Regions from separate parts of the Homo sapiens genome. Here regions 1 and 3 are each linked to region 2. The links come from fine-mapping of genetic effects on gene expression. Tissue or cell type: whole blood. Region 2 holds a variant in brackets; each other region holds the start of a gene. Each region is shown on its reference strand, or each on the opposite one.

What was found.
Region 1: KCNS1 starts here. The variant in region 2 is fine-mapped to the expression of KCNS1 in whole blood (TOPMed, PIP above 0.99).
Region 3: it holds the start of SLPI, and the variant in region 2 is fine-mapped to the expression of SLPI in whole blood (TOPMed, PIP above 0.99).

What each region holds. Positions count from the first base shown.
Region 1 is chr20:45,098,831-45,104,051 of GRCh38, forward strand. KCNS1 (potassium voltage-gated channel modifier subfamily S member 1) reads right to left here and starts at 2,297. Exons shown (of 4, transcript NM_001322799.2): 1 at 2,091-2,297; 2 at 331-409. The coding sequence starts at 406.
Region 2 is chr7:6,632,873-6,638,093 of GRCh38, forward strand. ZNF316 (zinc finger protein 316) reads left to right here and starts at 4,446. Exons shown (of 9, transcript NM_001278559.2): 1 at 4,446-4,575; 2 at 4,974-5,137. RefSeq lists silencers at 4,126-4,545, 4,786-5,215. The variant T/A (reference allele first, on the strand shown) is at 2,355.
Region 3 is chr20:45,252,362-45,257,582 of GRCh38, forward strand. It overlaps SLPI (secretory leukocyte peptidase inhibitor), which reads right to left and starts at 2,203. Exons shown (of 4, transcript NM_003064.4): 1 at 2,098-2,203; 2 at 1,214-1,372; 3 at 641-790; 4 at 1-58. The coding sequence starts at 2,182. The coding sequence ends at 54. The region is part of intron 2 of LOC105372630 (a long non-coding RNA gene); the gene reads left to right.

The DNA.
Region 1 (5,221 bases), not on the chromosome of region 2:
GCTCAGTAGATGTCAGGTGCCCTCTGGACTCAGAGTCAGGCCTGGCTTTGACTATCCTTCATCCCCATCATTTGACTTTGGCCAAATCACTGACCCACCCCACCCCCATTTCATTTTTCTCCTTTGGAAAGTAAATGCTGAGATCTACCTGGAAGGATATGAAAGCGATGGAATCGCAGGATGTCCTGGCACCTAGTGGGTGCTCACATAGGATGTCTCCTTTTCCAGGACAAACTTGGATTTATTTACACCAAAGGTCTACTGTGGGATCTTGGGCCCGCCAGCCCTCTGAACCTGTTTCTTCTGCAAAATGAGGATAGTAACACTTACCTCCTAGGGGTGTTGGCAGCACCACTTTAGACCGGAGGTTCTCATAGTGTGTTCCCCGGACCAGCAGCATCAGCATCACCTGGGAATTTGTCAAAGATGCAAATTCTCAGCCTGCCATCGATTTACTGAATCGGGAACTCTAAGGGTGGGGTCTAGCACTTTGTGTTCTAACAAGATTGGAAAGTGATTCGGCTACATAGTCAAGTTTGAGAGCTCCTGCTTTAGATTATGTAAAGCATCTGTAGAGTCAGCCAGACCTGACCTTGAATCTTGACTCTCTTGTGTCACCTTAGGCAAGTAACATCACCTCTCTGAGCCTCTGTGAAATGGAAATAAAAATATTCACCTCAAAGTGTGGTTATGAAGATTAAATGACCTAGTGTCTTTCTTGGGCTTGGCTCACAGAAGGAATTTAATAAATTATTCACTGGTGTCACTATCTTCTGGAGTCAGGCAAACCTGGGTTTATCTCCACCCCTGACGCACCTGGGGCCTTGAGGAAGCTATTTGTCCTCCAGGTCTCAATTTCCTGCACAACGTAGATAATAGCACCTACCTCCAGGGATGACTGGAGGATTAAGGTAGATTATAGAAAGTGCTCAGCCTTAGTGGATACTCAGGAAGGATTTAGGTTCTTCCACTACCCACTGACTCCTGACTCTGCTGGAATTGGGGGCTAGTGACACCTCCTCACCACTGGCAATCTCATTTGCACTGTGGGTTCAGTAATGCCTAGACTAGGGATTAAGTGTGTGTAAAGCACCTGGGCTTGGCATTAAATGGATTTGGGGTTCCACCCTTAGCTCTATCACTTGTGTGACCTCAGGCCAGTCTCCTTCCCACTCTGGGCTTTAGCTCTTTTACCTCTAGAATGGGGATAATGTTGCTTTGGATGCATCATTATTGTGGTATATGTCAAAGCCCTGGGAAAACAGTAGATGCTCAATAAATGTTAATCCTGTGTACTTCCCTGTGGTCAGACCTGAGTCTACCACTTACTAGCTGCTGTCCTTGAGTGCATTCGTCGCCCTCTCTGGGCTTGTTTCCCTGTCTGTGGAACCGGGTAGCATCATACTTTCCAGGAGAGGCTCAGAGAATTAAATGATGCAAGGTGTTTATCGGCAGCATGGTCCCTGGCACATAATCAATGCACAATAAACGTGTGATGTAGCTCCGCTCCCACCTCCACTTGGATCTCCACCTGCATTTGGCATCAAAAAATGAAATTTCTAATCCAGTTCCATCACCCATTAGAAGCATAATATTGGGCAAATCCCTTCATCCATCAGGAGCTCACTTTCCTGCTCTATGAAACAGGATAATTAATTCAACAAACATTTTCTGACAAGAACCTGAATATCAGTAAGAAAGACCAAGTGACTTGTTCAAAATCACCCAGCTAGTCCATGGCACAGCTAAGGTTGGAGACCAGGTTTTTTTATTTCATTCTCTCTCCACACACTTATTTTGAGCACCTCCTATCTGCTAGTCACTCCTCTGGGCTCCATGCACACCTCACTCGGTTTAATCCCTACACCAACCCTGCCAGGGAGGTTTTCTAATCCCATTTTACAGATGAGCAAACTGTACCAGCCAGGGTCTCCAAAGCGCGGCCACCCCACACTGCTTCCTCCTTGGCGGGGGGTGGGGGGTCTCTTAGAGGGGGTAAGAGCACCAGGAGCCCCAGGCAGCCCCGCCTCCCACTCTGGCTGCCCGGGACCGTCCCGGAGCCACGTCCCTCCCCAAAGGAGGCCCCTTACCTGTGGTGGCACCTCCCGGGCGCCTCGCGTGTCTGTCCCAAAGCCACCGAGGCTGGGAGCCGCTGGCTATACTCGGTCTCGCCTCTGCCCCGCCGGCCCCGCCGAGCCTCCTGCTGCAGGCGGCCCCGCTGCCCTCTCCTTCCTTCTTCCTTGCCTAGTCCCCCGCGGCTGAAGGCCGCATCGATCGCTGCCGGAGGAGGGAGTGAGGCCGCTGGCGGCCGGAGGCGGCGGTTTCTATTCCTGACTCGGCTGGGGGGTGGTGGTGTCTGGAGACTGGGCCTACCTGCAGGGGCATCCTCCGGAGTTACGGGCCGGGAAGGAGGGGTCATTTAGGGCGTGAGGATTCCCCGTAGAGAGGGATTTCAGCAGAAGCTTCTCTGGCAAAGGAACAACAGTAATCATGATTTACTTAATTGAGTGTTTAGTATGTGCCAGGGTACTTCAGCTGCTGCAAGTGATTGATCTCAGTTATTCCTGGCACACACACTTGACAGGGCCAGGATCTTATGTCGCCCATTTTAGGGGTGAGCTCCAGTCATTTTCTCAGACCGTGGGCATCTGAGTTAGGGAGCTGTAGAAGGTGGCCTCATCTCCCTTGGAGCCCCAGGTTCTTCCTAGGTGAGTTGTGAAGCTTGAAACGATCATTTTACCCCTGAGGCGCAGTGTCCTTACCTGCCCACGGGTTCCTGATTCCCACCTGCCAAGTGGGTTGTGAGGGCAGAGAACATGTGCCAAAGAGCTTTGTAGAGGTTGTGAAATCCCCACACATGTACCTGTTGTGTGGCTGCTGTGTGCCTGGTTGGGGAGAGGCTCCTGGAGACTAGGGCCTGGATATGAGCCTTTGCACATATTGTTATTAATAATAATGATAATTACCAACGTTTATTGAGTACTTACCTTGGGTCAAGCACAGACCTCAATCTCACTCAAACTGCAAATTTATCTGTGGGGTAAGTGCTACTATTATTCCTATCTCACAGATAAGAACTGCTTTGAGAGGTGTGGTGACTTGCCGGAGGTCCCATGGCTGACTTCTGAGTCCTCTAGGCCAGCACAGTCCAACACCTATAATGTGAGCCACATATATAATTTTATTTTATTTTATTTTTGATTTTTTGAGATAGAGTCTCACTCACTCTGTTGCAGGCTGGAGTGCAGTGGCACAATCTTGGCTCACTGCAACCTCCGCCTCCTGGGTTCAAGCGATTCTCCTGCCTCAGCCTCCTGAGTAGCTGGGATTACAGGCATGCACCACCATGCCCAGCTAATTTTTGTATTTTTAGTACAGAAGGGGTTTCACCATGTTGGCCAGGCTGGTCTTGAACTCCTGGCCTCAAATGATCCACCTGCCTTGGCCTCACAAAATGCTGAGATTACAGGCATGAGCCACCGCGTCCGGCCCACATATGTCCTTTTACATTTCTGATTGCAACATTTTAAAGAAGTAAAAAACAGGCGAAATTACAGTTACCCCTTAAACAGTGGGGGTTAGGGAAACCACTCCTCCATGCCTAGAAAATTAGAATATAACTTTTGACTCCCCTGAAACTTAACTAGTAATAACTTACTGTTCGCCAGAAACCTTACCAATAATATAAACAGTCGATTGACACATAAATAGTATCTACATATATCTTAGGCATTCACGACATATCTAACTTATTCTTAAGGCTTTTGATATTTCTAGTCTACATGGTTCATCTGTAAGTTTTTTCAAATTGTCACAAATCTCCAAAAATTTTCCAATGTATTTATTGGAAAAAAATCTGCATGTAAGTGGACACTAGCAGTTCAAACTCGTGTTGTTTCAGGATCAACTGTATTTTTAGTGATATATTTTATTAAATCTAAAATATTATGATTTCAACATTGGAATCAGTAAAGAAATTATTGAGATATTTTACATTTTCTTTTTTTTGTACTAAGTCTCTAAAATCCAGTACTAATTTTTCTTATTGCTACATAACAAATTACCACAATTTAGTAGCTTAAAACAATACAAATTTATGATCTCATGGTTTCTGTAGGTCAGAAGTCTGGGCATGGCCTGGCTGGACCCTCAGGGTCTCACCAGGTTGAAGCCAAGGTGTTGGCCAGGGTTGAGGTTCTCATGTGAGCTTCAGAGTTTTCTTCCAAGCTCACAGATTGTTGGCAGAATTCATTTCCTTGTGGTTATAGGACTGAGGTCTCTCTTTTCCTGTTAGCTGTCTCCGAGGGATCAATCTCAGATTCTAGAAGCTGCCCCATAGGCAGTTCATAGCATGAATGCTTGCTTTCTTTCAGGGACATCAGAGTGCTGAATTCCTCTCCTGTAACCAGCCAGAGAAAAATCTCTGGCTTTAAAACTCTCACCTGATTAGTCCAGGCCCACCCAGGGCACTCTCCCTTCTGCCATATAATATACATTCACGGGTTCCACCTACACTTAAAGAGGAGGAGATTATACAGGGATGAGGATCATTGAGGAGGGGTCATCTGAATTCTGCCTCCCATATATAAATCTAGTGTACTAATTTATTTTATTTTTTATTTTTTGAGAGAGATTTTTTGAGATTTATCTATAGCATATCTCAGTTTGGACTAGTCACATTTTATGTGCTCGGTAGCCACACATGGCTCGTGGCTGCCATATTAGACAGCACAGCCCTAGGCTGTGCCACTTTAGTTTTTCCCTCGAAAGAAGAAGTTAGAGCAGGAAGCTGCTTAGTGAGCATCTTGCCCAATTCCCTCATTTGACCAACAGGGAAACTGAGGCAGATTTGCCGAGAAGCAGGTCTTCTGTTTCCTGGCCTAAGAGTTTGTCTGCAGCCTTTGCTACCCCTCAGGACTCAGGAGTTTTCCCTGGAGCTGCAGAGACGGTTTCCAAAATTGAGAGAAAAGACAGACCTATTTCCCAAAGGCAGAAGAGAATGAAACCAGGATCTGGTTTCATCCCCAGATTACACAGTGAGAGGTAAATGAAGTTTTGGTGGAATCTGTGAGCCACAAGAGTGGGAAGGTGGGCCTTATGGGTGGGAAGGACGGGGCATCCCTGTCCTTCATGTACCATGGATGGTCTGTCCCCCAAATTCTCCCTCAGTCCCTGACCAGGTTTAGTCATTGGAATCCATGGGGTTTTACCTTCAGAGTAA
Region 2 (5,221 bases):
GACAGGGTTTCTCCATGTTGGCCAGGCTGGTCTTGAAATCCTGACCTCAGATGATCCGCCCACCTTGGCCTCCCCAAGTGCTGGGATTACAGGTGTGAGCCACTGTGCCTGGCCCCTAATTTTTGTATTTTTAGTAGCAACAGGGTTTCACCATGTTAGCTAGGCTGGACTTGAACTCCTGACCTTAGGTGATCCACCTGCCTCGGCCTCCCAAAGTGCTGGGATTACAGGTGTGAGCCACTGCACCCAGCTATTTTATTTTATTTTATTATTATTTTTTTGAGACAGAATTTTGCTGTGTCGCCCAGGCTGGAGTGCAATGGCACAATCTCGGCTCACTGCAAGCTCCGCCTCCCAGGTTCACGCCATTCTCCTGCCTCAGCCTCCCCAGTAGCTGGGACTCCAGGTGCCCACCACCATGCCCGGCTAATTTTTTGTATTTTCAGTACAGACGGGTTTTCACCGTGTTAGCCAGGATGGTCTCGATCTCCTGATCTCGTGATCCATCTGCCTCAGCCTCCCAAAGTGCTGGGATTACAGGCATGAGCCACCGTGCCTGGCCTATTTTATTTTATTTTTGAGACAGAGTTTTCCTCTGTCACCCAGGCTGGAGTGCAGTGGTGTGAACATAGTTCATTGCAGCCTCAACCTCTTGGGCTCAAGCAATCCTCTCACCACAGCCTCCTGAGTAGCTGGGACTACAGGCATGCACCACCACACCCAACTAATTTTTAAATTTTTAGTAGAGTCAAGGTTTCACTATGTTGCCCAGGCTGGTCTTGAACTCCTGGGCTCAAGCTATCTTCCTGCTTCGGCCTCCCAAAGTGCTGGGATTCCAGGCGTGAGCCACTGCACCCAGCTAATTTTTAAAAATGTTGTGTAGCGACAGGGTCTTGCTATGTTGCCCAGGCTGCTCTCAAACTCCTGGCCTTAAGCTTTCCTCCTGCCTCAGCCTTCCAAAGTGCTGGGACTACAGGCATGGGCCAATCCTGGCCTGCTTTTTAATTACTTCCTTCTTCAAATGAGTCTAGGGAAATCTATCAAGACTGAGTTCAGTAGTGAGTGACAAGAAGGTCCAACTAAACTACAGTTTATGACAACCAATTGTCCCCAGGTCAGAGGCATCCTCAGGTGGCCCAGGCCTGGTCTAGCATCTCCCTAAGGCCAAGGACACATAAGTCCCACCAGCTTCCTTCGTCTCCTCTCCGTCTCCTCAGCCCCTCAGCAGTGCTGTTGGAGCAAGAAGCAAAACTCACTCGTAGGGCCCGGTGAGGTGGCTCACGCCCTTTCCTTTCCTAAAAAGGAAAGGGAAAGGAAGAAAAGGGAAGGAAGAAAGGAAGGAAGGGAAAGAAAGAAGGAAAGAAAGGAAAGGAAAAGGAAAAGGAAAAGGAAAATTATCTGTGGACGAGGGAGAGGAAGAAATTGAGTCTTGGATTAGGTATCAGGTGAGGACAGGCCAAGAGGAGATCTGAGGAGATGCTGGGGTGATTCGGGGTCCCTGCCTGACAGGGTGGAGGGATCTAAGGCCGGGATGGAGCTGCTGACTCTATTATACACACTCCTCTTCTGGGGTCCCTTGCTGTCCACATTACAGGTGGTTTTGGGCAACGGGCAGCACTGGGAAGTGACAGGGTGCAGGAGGGCAGGGTTGGGGTACTCTCTCCTTGCCACACTGTCCCTCTATAATCACAGTGCCCACAGTGTCCCCATCTTTATATCTCCACCTCCCTCCAGGCTTGACAACATCCTGCCCTTTCCTGCTCCTGCAGGGCTAAGGGTGGCAAAGGCCTGGTGCCTTCACATTCCAGCTGCTTCCCTTTACCTGGTGTATTAGTCCATTTTCATGCTGCTGTAAAGAACTGCCCAAGACCGGGAAACTTATAAAAGGAAAGAGGTTTAACTCACAGTGGCTCTTGCCTGTAATCCCAGCACTTTGGGAGGCCGAGGCGGGCGGATCACGAGGTCAGGAGTTCGAGACCAGCCTGACCAACACGGTGAAACCCCATCTCAACTAAAAATACAAAAATTAGCCAGGCGTGGTAGTGCACACCTGTAATCCCAGCTACTTGGGAGGCTGAGGCAGGAGAATCACTTGAACCTGGGAGGTTGACGTTGCAGTGAGCAGAGATTGTGCCACTGCACTCCAGCTTGGGCAACAGAGTGCGAGACTCCATCTCAAGAAAAAAACAAAAACAAAACAAACCACCACCACCACCACCAACCACCACCAACCACCACCACCACCAAAAACTGACTCACAGTTCCGCATGACTGGGGAGGCCTCAGGAAATTTACAATCATGGTGGAAGGGGAAGCAAACACTTCCTTCTTCACATGATGGCAGGAAGGAGAAG[T/A]GTGGAGCAAAGGGGAAAAGCCCCTTACAAAACCATCAGATCTCATGAGAACTCACTAACATGAGAACAGCATGAGGCGAACTGCCCCCATGATTTAATTACCTCCCACCGGGTCCCTTCCACAACATGTGGGGATCATGAGAACTACAATTCAAGACGAGATTTCAGTGGGGACACAGCCAAACCACATCACCTGGTGACACTGCTTTTGGTCAATTGTTAATTGTCCTACAGTCAGAGCCCTTCCTGGGAGTGCCTGGGGGCAATTGCACCTTCCTACTGAACCTGACGGATCAGGTAGGGTGGGGAAGGGTCTAATCTAGGGATTAGGGGTTCTAAAAGATACCCACAGGAGAGTCAGGCAGTGTCATTCAGATGTGGGCCTGGAGGAAAGGGACAGGGAGTGGTGGGCACTGAGGACCATGGCCACGCTCAGTCCCACCCACAGAAGCTGGTTACTTCTCAGGCCCTACTGGCTGGTGCCCTGCAAACCAGGGGCCTTGTGTTGCCAGAACTTCTGATTTTTCAGATTTTATTTATTATTAGAGACAGGGTTTCAATCTGTTGCCCAGGCTGGAGTGGAGTGGTGCTATCATAGCTCACTGCAGCCTCAACCTCCTGGGCTCAAGCAATCCTCCCACCTTGTTTTCCCAAAGTGCTGGGATTACAGGTGTGACCCGCCTCGGCCCCCCAGAGTGCTTAATTTATAGGTGTGAGACCCCGCATTAGAACCTGATTTTTCAATTTTATTTTTTAAACAAGAATGGGACTCCTTATTTTAAAATGTTATTAACTTTAAGACATTTTAAGACACCAAGAGCCAAGCGACATCACTGTGAGGGTCTGATTCAAGGGGTTGGGGCTGCACCCCTCTGTGGGACTAAGGTTTGAGTCCTCCTCTATCTTATTATTATTTTGAGACAGAGTCTCACCTTGTCGCCCAGGCTGGCGTGCAGTGGTGTGATCTCGGCTCACTGCACCCTCTGCCTCCCGGCTTCAAACGATTCTCCTGCCTCAGCCTCCCAAGCAGCTGGGACTACAGGGGTGCGCTACCACGGCCGGCTAATTTTTGTATTTTTAGTAGAGATGGGGTTTCACCCACCATGTTAGCCAAGCTAGTCTCGAACTCCTGACCTCGTGATCCGCCCGCCAAGACCTCCCAAAGTGCTAGGATTACAGACACCGTGCCTGGCCGAGTCCTCCTCTATCTCTTGCCCAGTCAGGCCTGGGGTCCCCACAGAAAAGCACCAAGAACAGTGGTGCAGGCGGGCTGGGAGCTGGGGAAGGGGCCCAGGCCACACCATTCCAGGCGGAAGACAGACCCTGGACTCCACCAATGCCAGAGCTCATCCTGACACCCCAGCTGCACCTCTTGGGAGCAGGTGCAGACAGGCTTGTGGGTGGGGGTCTGGGGGTGGCCGCTGAGCTCACCGACCCCTCCCTGGGTTCCTGGGGTCGCCTGTCACTTCTGCCCCCACACTGGCCATGCCCTCTGCCTGGACATCGCTTCCCTGCCCGTGACCCCATGTCCCTCCAAGTGCGGGCTCCACAACCCCAGTCTCCTCCTGCACTCAACCGCCACAGTCCACCCATAAGACGTTCACCCCGCCCGTCCCTCCTCCCTCCCCACCCACAAGACGTTCACCCCGCGCGGGCCCGGGGATCTGGTGGAGGCGTGGACACCTGGCCCCCTCCCCACCACAGGGGTCGCCTCCTCCCTCCACCATCCTGGGGTCCCGGGCAGGCTCCGTGGACTGGCGGAGGGGGCCCAGCGCGGGGCCTGGTCCTCAGCGGGCGCCCCGATGAACGAGGCCGGGCTGGGGTTCGGGGAAGGCGGTGGTCGCAGCGGCGGGACCTCGGGGTCACCTCCGAGACCTGGCCAGGGTGTCCAGGAGCGGGGCGAGGTTGTGGGCGCCCCACGAGTGTCGAGGGCGCTCCCGTCCCCTCCCCGCATGCCCCGTCCTCGCCCCGGCCCGAGGCCCAGCTGGGCAAACCCCCGCAACCCGCGCTTCCCCGCTCCGCGCCGCTGCCCCCGCGTGACCGGAAGTTCCTCCCCCCGCGGGCGCGGGCGGGGCGGGGCCGGCCGGCGGTACTTCCGGTGCCCACGCGCCGCCGTCGCGCAGCTCCCGGGCCGTCACTTTGTGTAGCGCGGGGTCCGCCGCCGGCCCGCAGGCCCCGGCCCCGGTGTCCGGCCCGTGGCTCGGCCAGCCCGGCCCGCGCGGTGAGTGGGTCTCGCGGGGCCGGTGGGCGGCGGCGCGGGCGGCAGGTGCGGGCGGGCCGGGCTTGCGCTCGGGGGCGGCGGCGGCGGCGGGGCCGGGCTGGCCCTCGACGCCCGGCGCGGGGAGGCCGCGGGGAGGCGGCGGGGCCGGGGCCTGCAGAGTCGGAGCGGAACGCGGGTAGGGACTTCCGCGGCAGCGCCCCCGCCTCCCGGACCCCCGTCCGGGCCTGCGCGTTGCCGACCCCCGGGGCCGGTCCGGGCAGGAGGCGGAGGGGGCAGGCCCGGGAGGCCACGCGTGACACCTCGGGGTGCCCGCCCACGCCTTCTCGGCCGCAGCGGCAGGGGCTGGGCCGCGGCCGCCCCCAGGACACACCCATCCAGGAGGGGCTGTCATCGTCTAGGTCTCTGCAGGAGGAGGCGGCTCCGGACGCCCCCTGGGGGGCGGGAGGCGCTCGGCCCGTCGCCCCAGGAGCCCGCTTTGTGACCTTGGGGGCCTTATCCGGGCTTTCCCTCATCTGCAGAAGGAGCCCCGGTGGGCTGCTCGGCTGTCTTCTGCTGCCGGCAGGTAGGTAGGGACACCCATCCCTGGGATTGGATGGGGTCTGGGCTGTCCCGCGTGGCAGCAGAGGTAGGAAAGGGGCTGGGCTTT
Region 3 (5,221 bases), not on the chromosome of region 2:
AGGACCTGGACCACACAGAGCAGGACTCCAGAGCCTCCTCCATATGGCAGGAATCAAGCTGTGAGAGAAAATCAGATAAGAGCTTCAGCATAGAAACCAGCCAAATCATATCCACATCCTTCCTCCTGCCCAAGGATCCTTCTGAGATAGAGAAAATAGCAAGATAGCGCTATAGTTGAGAGAGACTTAGTGTCAGGAGACAAGTCTCATTTTCACCGTAAAACTCTAAACTCAAAGCATTGAACTAGATAATCCTCAAACTCCACTGATCCTTTGTGATTTCACCTCAGAAAACATGATGGAAACAACCTGAATAATAAATTCTTAGTGCACATAGTGCTTTGCAGAGCACTTTCAATCTCATTATGTACATTTTACCGATAAAGAAACTGAGACTCAGAAAGACACTTGCCCAGGACCCCCACCCAGAGACACTAGAATAGAATCAAAGCCACAGGCGATCCTATGGAAATCCTGGCCCTGAGACCTGGAGAACAGTTCTCTTGAAGGACAAGGGAGTCAGACAGAGGCTGTGCTTGGAGTAGGGTTCAGGAGTCCCCCTGCCCATATGCCTGGGCCTCCAGAGGGTTGAGGCTGAGAGGGCTGGAGGGAGCTCAGTGTGCCCTCATCCCCTGCTTACCTTTCACAGGGGAAACGCAGGATTTCCCACACATGCCCATGCAACACTTCAAGTCACGCTTGCACTGGCCATCCATCTCACAGAAATTGGGGGGGTTAAGCATCAAACATTGGCCATAAGTCACTGGGCACTTCCCAGGCTTCCTCCTTGCTGGGTGAGAGTGAGGCTACCGGTCAGAGGCCTTGTACTTTATACAACCCCTCCCATCCCCACTTTTTAGAGTGAGCCCCTGCTCCAGCTTCAGCAGGGGGGATCATCCCCTCCCCACCTCTATCACCACCACCTTCTCCCTAAGGCGGCCCCCAAACATAGCACCTGGCTCTCCTAGAACTTCAGGCCCCCCATTGATGCAGGTGGCCAGCCACCCAGTGCTGACTAGGTGGGAGGCTTCCAACTACCTGGCTATCTAAATGCCCGCTGCTTCACCAGCTGCTGGCTACCTTCCTGCTTAGGGCAGTGTGACTCACTGACGGATTGACAAGGAGGCCTGGCAGGACCCATCACCCAGTTCCATCCCTCTAATGCTGTGTCCCCAGGCTCACTCCTCTCTACCCAGTTCCCCGACCTGCTTACTTGGGTTTGGGGTGTCAACAGGATCCAGGCATTTGATGCCACAAGTGTCAGGACAACATCTCTTCTTCCCTGGACACTGCCAGTCACTCTGGCACTCAGGTTTCTTGTATCTAAGGCACTGGGCAGATTTCTTAGGAGGACAGACTCCAGCTTTGAAGGCTTTTGAAGAGAAAGTCAAGAGGTCAGGAGGAGGCTGGGTACTGAGGACCCATCATGCCTCCTGAACAAAGCACCACTTTTGAGGGGGAGAGACCCTTACCTCAGTAGCTGTCCACAAAGCCCAAAGGGTCATGCCTGCCTGATCTCCAGGTGTATTGATGGGCTTGATTAAATTAGACAAATGGACAGGGGACGTTTCACACCCAAGAAAAGGGCAGCAGGCTTCTAGTCAAGACCTCCCACCCAAGAGCAAAACAAGGCTACACAAAGGCAGAGAGGAAGGCTGGGAGTGATGGAGATGGAGAGAGGTAAACAAAGATAAATAGAACCAGTGTGAGAGAAGTTGAGAGCTAAAGCCCAAGGCAGAAGCACAGAGACAAAATAGCAGAAGCAAAGACACAAGGAAGCAGAGTCAGAAACTAATGATTTGAGAGTCGCAGACAGGTGAAGAAGAAGGCGGAGTATGAGAGAGAGAGAGAGAGAGAGAGAGAGAGAGAGAGAGTGGGACCTGGGCTGACAGCATGGCTGCATAGAGGAAGCATTTCCAGAAGCTCAAACTGTCACACAAACCTTGGAGCTCAGCCAGACATGTATTCCACCCTCAGGGAGGTCTCCCGAAACTAAGCTGAGGGATCAGAGCCTACAGAAGGGGACACACCCACACCACAAGGAGACCCCACCTCTGACCCTGCAGCCCAGATTAGACCAGAGTGACTCCAACTTACACTTTCCAGAGCCTTCCACAGCCCAAGGTGCCAGAGTTCCCAGGGCAAGCAGCACCAGGAAGGGGAAGAGGCCGCTGGACTTCATGGTGAAGGCAGGAGTGACTCTGATGGCCAATGCCAAACCTCACTATTTATTCTTTCACCAGTGGGTGTGGCCCCACCAGAATTCTTTCGGCCTCTCCCAGCTACTATTGCATAAGCAGGAAACGTAGCCAGAGACCAGAAATCCTGACACCAAGGAGATTGTTTATCTTTCCTATGCCAGGTAAGGCTATGAGGCCAACACAGCAACTATCAGAAAAGAAAGGGAAGAGATTGGCCTGGGAAGTTGGTTGATTAAAGAGGCCATCTCAGTGTCCATCTGAGCCCTAAACATCACAAGATCCCAGGCCATTAGCCTTATAGGTGGAGAGAGGGAAGAAGTGGTCAATTGCAAAGGTGCTACCCGGACCTGGAACTAAAACCAGACACAGACTCCCTGCTGAGACTTTGTGCAATACATTCTATTCTCACATTGCTAATTCTGATTCTCACATTACTGGACTCTCAGGCATTGTGAAACTCTGCTGATTACTCAATGCAGTTTCTTTCTCAAAAGTTCAGCTCGTTCAACCAACTGATACTTAGTTCCCTGAAATATTTACACCGTTATATCCCCAGTGCCTGTTCTGTGCCTGACACAGGAAAAGCACTCACAAATGAAAGCTGAAGAAGAGCTCCGCTCTCCACAAATCTCTCTGGAGCTCAGTTGTCTCAGCTGTGAAATGAAATGATACTAACAAGTCAGCCCTTCTCAGAGGGTTATGAAATTAAGGGCATGAAGGGACTCTGAATGAAAAGAACAAATGAATAGTATCCCTTCCCACTAAAGAGAATTGAAATGAATCTGAGATAAAGGGGGAAAGCAGCTCATCAGTCACTGTAATCTACATTTAGCTGTGAGATAATTTGAGATCTTAGAGGATTGCTTCCTAAAATTCCCCAAAATCCCTTACAGATCTCACATGACAGCAAAAAATTAAACCCATTCTATTTGCTACCCAGTCTGCATAGGTTGCTTCTAATTATAAAGAGAGCGACCATTATCTCTAAAATTCAGCCCATAGCTGAGTGTAGGGTCGCACACTTGCTGTCTCAGCTGCCCAGGAGGCTGAGGTGTATGGATTCCTTGAGAGTAGGAGTTTGAGACCAGCCCTGGCCACATATTGAGACCCCATCTCTACAAAAAAATGTAAAAAATTAGCCAGGCATGATGACGTACGTATGCCTGTAGTCCCAGCTACTTGGGAGGCTGAGCCAGGAGGATCGCTTTAGCCCAGGAGTTTGAGGCTGCAGTGAGCCATGATTGTGCCACTGCATTCCAGCTTGGGGGACAGAGCGATACCCTGTCTTAAAAAAATAAAATAAAATAAAATTCAACCAAAGCTCATCTAGCTACAAACTCCAAGCTCTTGACTCATTATCTTCATGCTTGGAATTCTCCCATTCATTCCTAAGGTGAAGGTTTGTGGAACTTTCCACAGACATGAAAGACCCACTCATTATCAAGTAGCGATGGCCCCACATGAAGTATTTAAGTATTCCACAACCAAACAGGCAACTGGCAGCAGATCCCTTTATACAAAAGTCACTCCATGGTTTGAATTTTGGTGGATCAGAAGACTTGGACATAATCAATCATCAGTCAAATTTTGGTGGAAAAAGAAAAGGAAGAAAATTAATATGCACAAGGTAACTACTATGAGCCAGGTGCATTCACTCTTAGTTGGAGTACTTAGTAGGGTAGGTAAGAGAGAAATGGAGGCTATGATTTCCACCAATGGGTAATGACACTCTCAGGTCAAGATTTTTGTTCTCACTTCCACCACCCAGGGGATAATTTGATTTCTCTCACAGAGTTCCTGTTCTCTCTCTCTCTCTCTCTCTCTGTTTGTTCCTATTTTCCTCAGTGCCACACTCAAGAAATTATCTGGAGTTTTCTAAATATTTATTTCTTAAAGAATGAAAAGGGGCTGGGCACGGTGGCTTATGCCTGTAATCCTAGCACTTTGGGAAACCAAGGTGGGCGGATCACTTGAGGTCAGGAGTTCAAGAGCAGCCTGGCCAACATGGTGAAACCCTATCTCCACTAAAAATACAAAAATTAGCCAGGCAGTGTGGCACACACCTGTAATCCCAGCTACTCAGGAGGCTGAGGCAGGAGAATCACTTGAACCCTGGAGGTAGAGGTTGCAGTGAGCTGAGATTGTACCATTGCATTCTAGCCTAGGCAACAAACTGAGACTCCGTCTCAAAAAAAAAAAAAATTAAAAGGAAAATGCTACAGCTTAAGTTTTTTTTAAATCTGTGATTGACTGATTGCTCAATCTGTGATTGACTGATTAGAGCCAGCTCCTTTCTCATCAGAAAAGAGCCCTGTGCCCAATTAGCAATGTCTTCCATGGGTGTCATAAGAAGATAATAGTATATAATCATTATTATCTTTGACATAATTGGTTCTAAATGTTTACATCATAGAATGTTAAGACTAAAAAGAGGACTTCAAGGGTTTTCTAGATCAGCAAACTACAGTCCTTGGACCAAATCCACCTAGTTACCTGTTTTCATAAAGTTTTATTGGCACATAGCCACACATCCATTAATTTATGTATTGTCTAAGGCTATCTTTCCACTACAATGGCAACAGGGACCTAAAATATTTACTGCACAGCCTAAAATACTTATCGTCTGGTCCTTTACAGAAAATGCTAACCCCTAGACCAAACCCACAGCTTGCATAAAAGAGACTGAATCCCTTAGAAGAAGATCCAGGCCCAAAGCTGCATAGCGGATTAACGACACACACAAGATTGAGCTTTTCTAAAACAGGTTACTCACATGCTGATCCCCAGAACCTGTCTGGTGGAGGACACTTCCACTCCTAACCAAATCTTAACCTGAGACTGACTCATTCAATCTATCTCAAGGCTGGGAGTGGTGGCTCACTCCTGTGATCCCAGAACTTTGGGAGACTGAGGTGGGTGGATCACTTGAGGTCAGGAGTTTGAGACCAGCCTGGCCAACATGGTGAAATCCCATCTCTACTAAAAATACAAAAATCAGCCGGGCATGGTGGTGTGTGCCT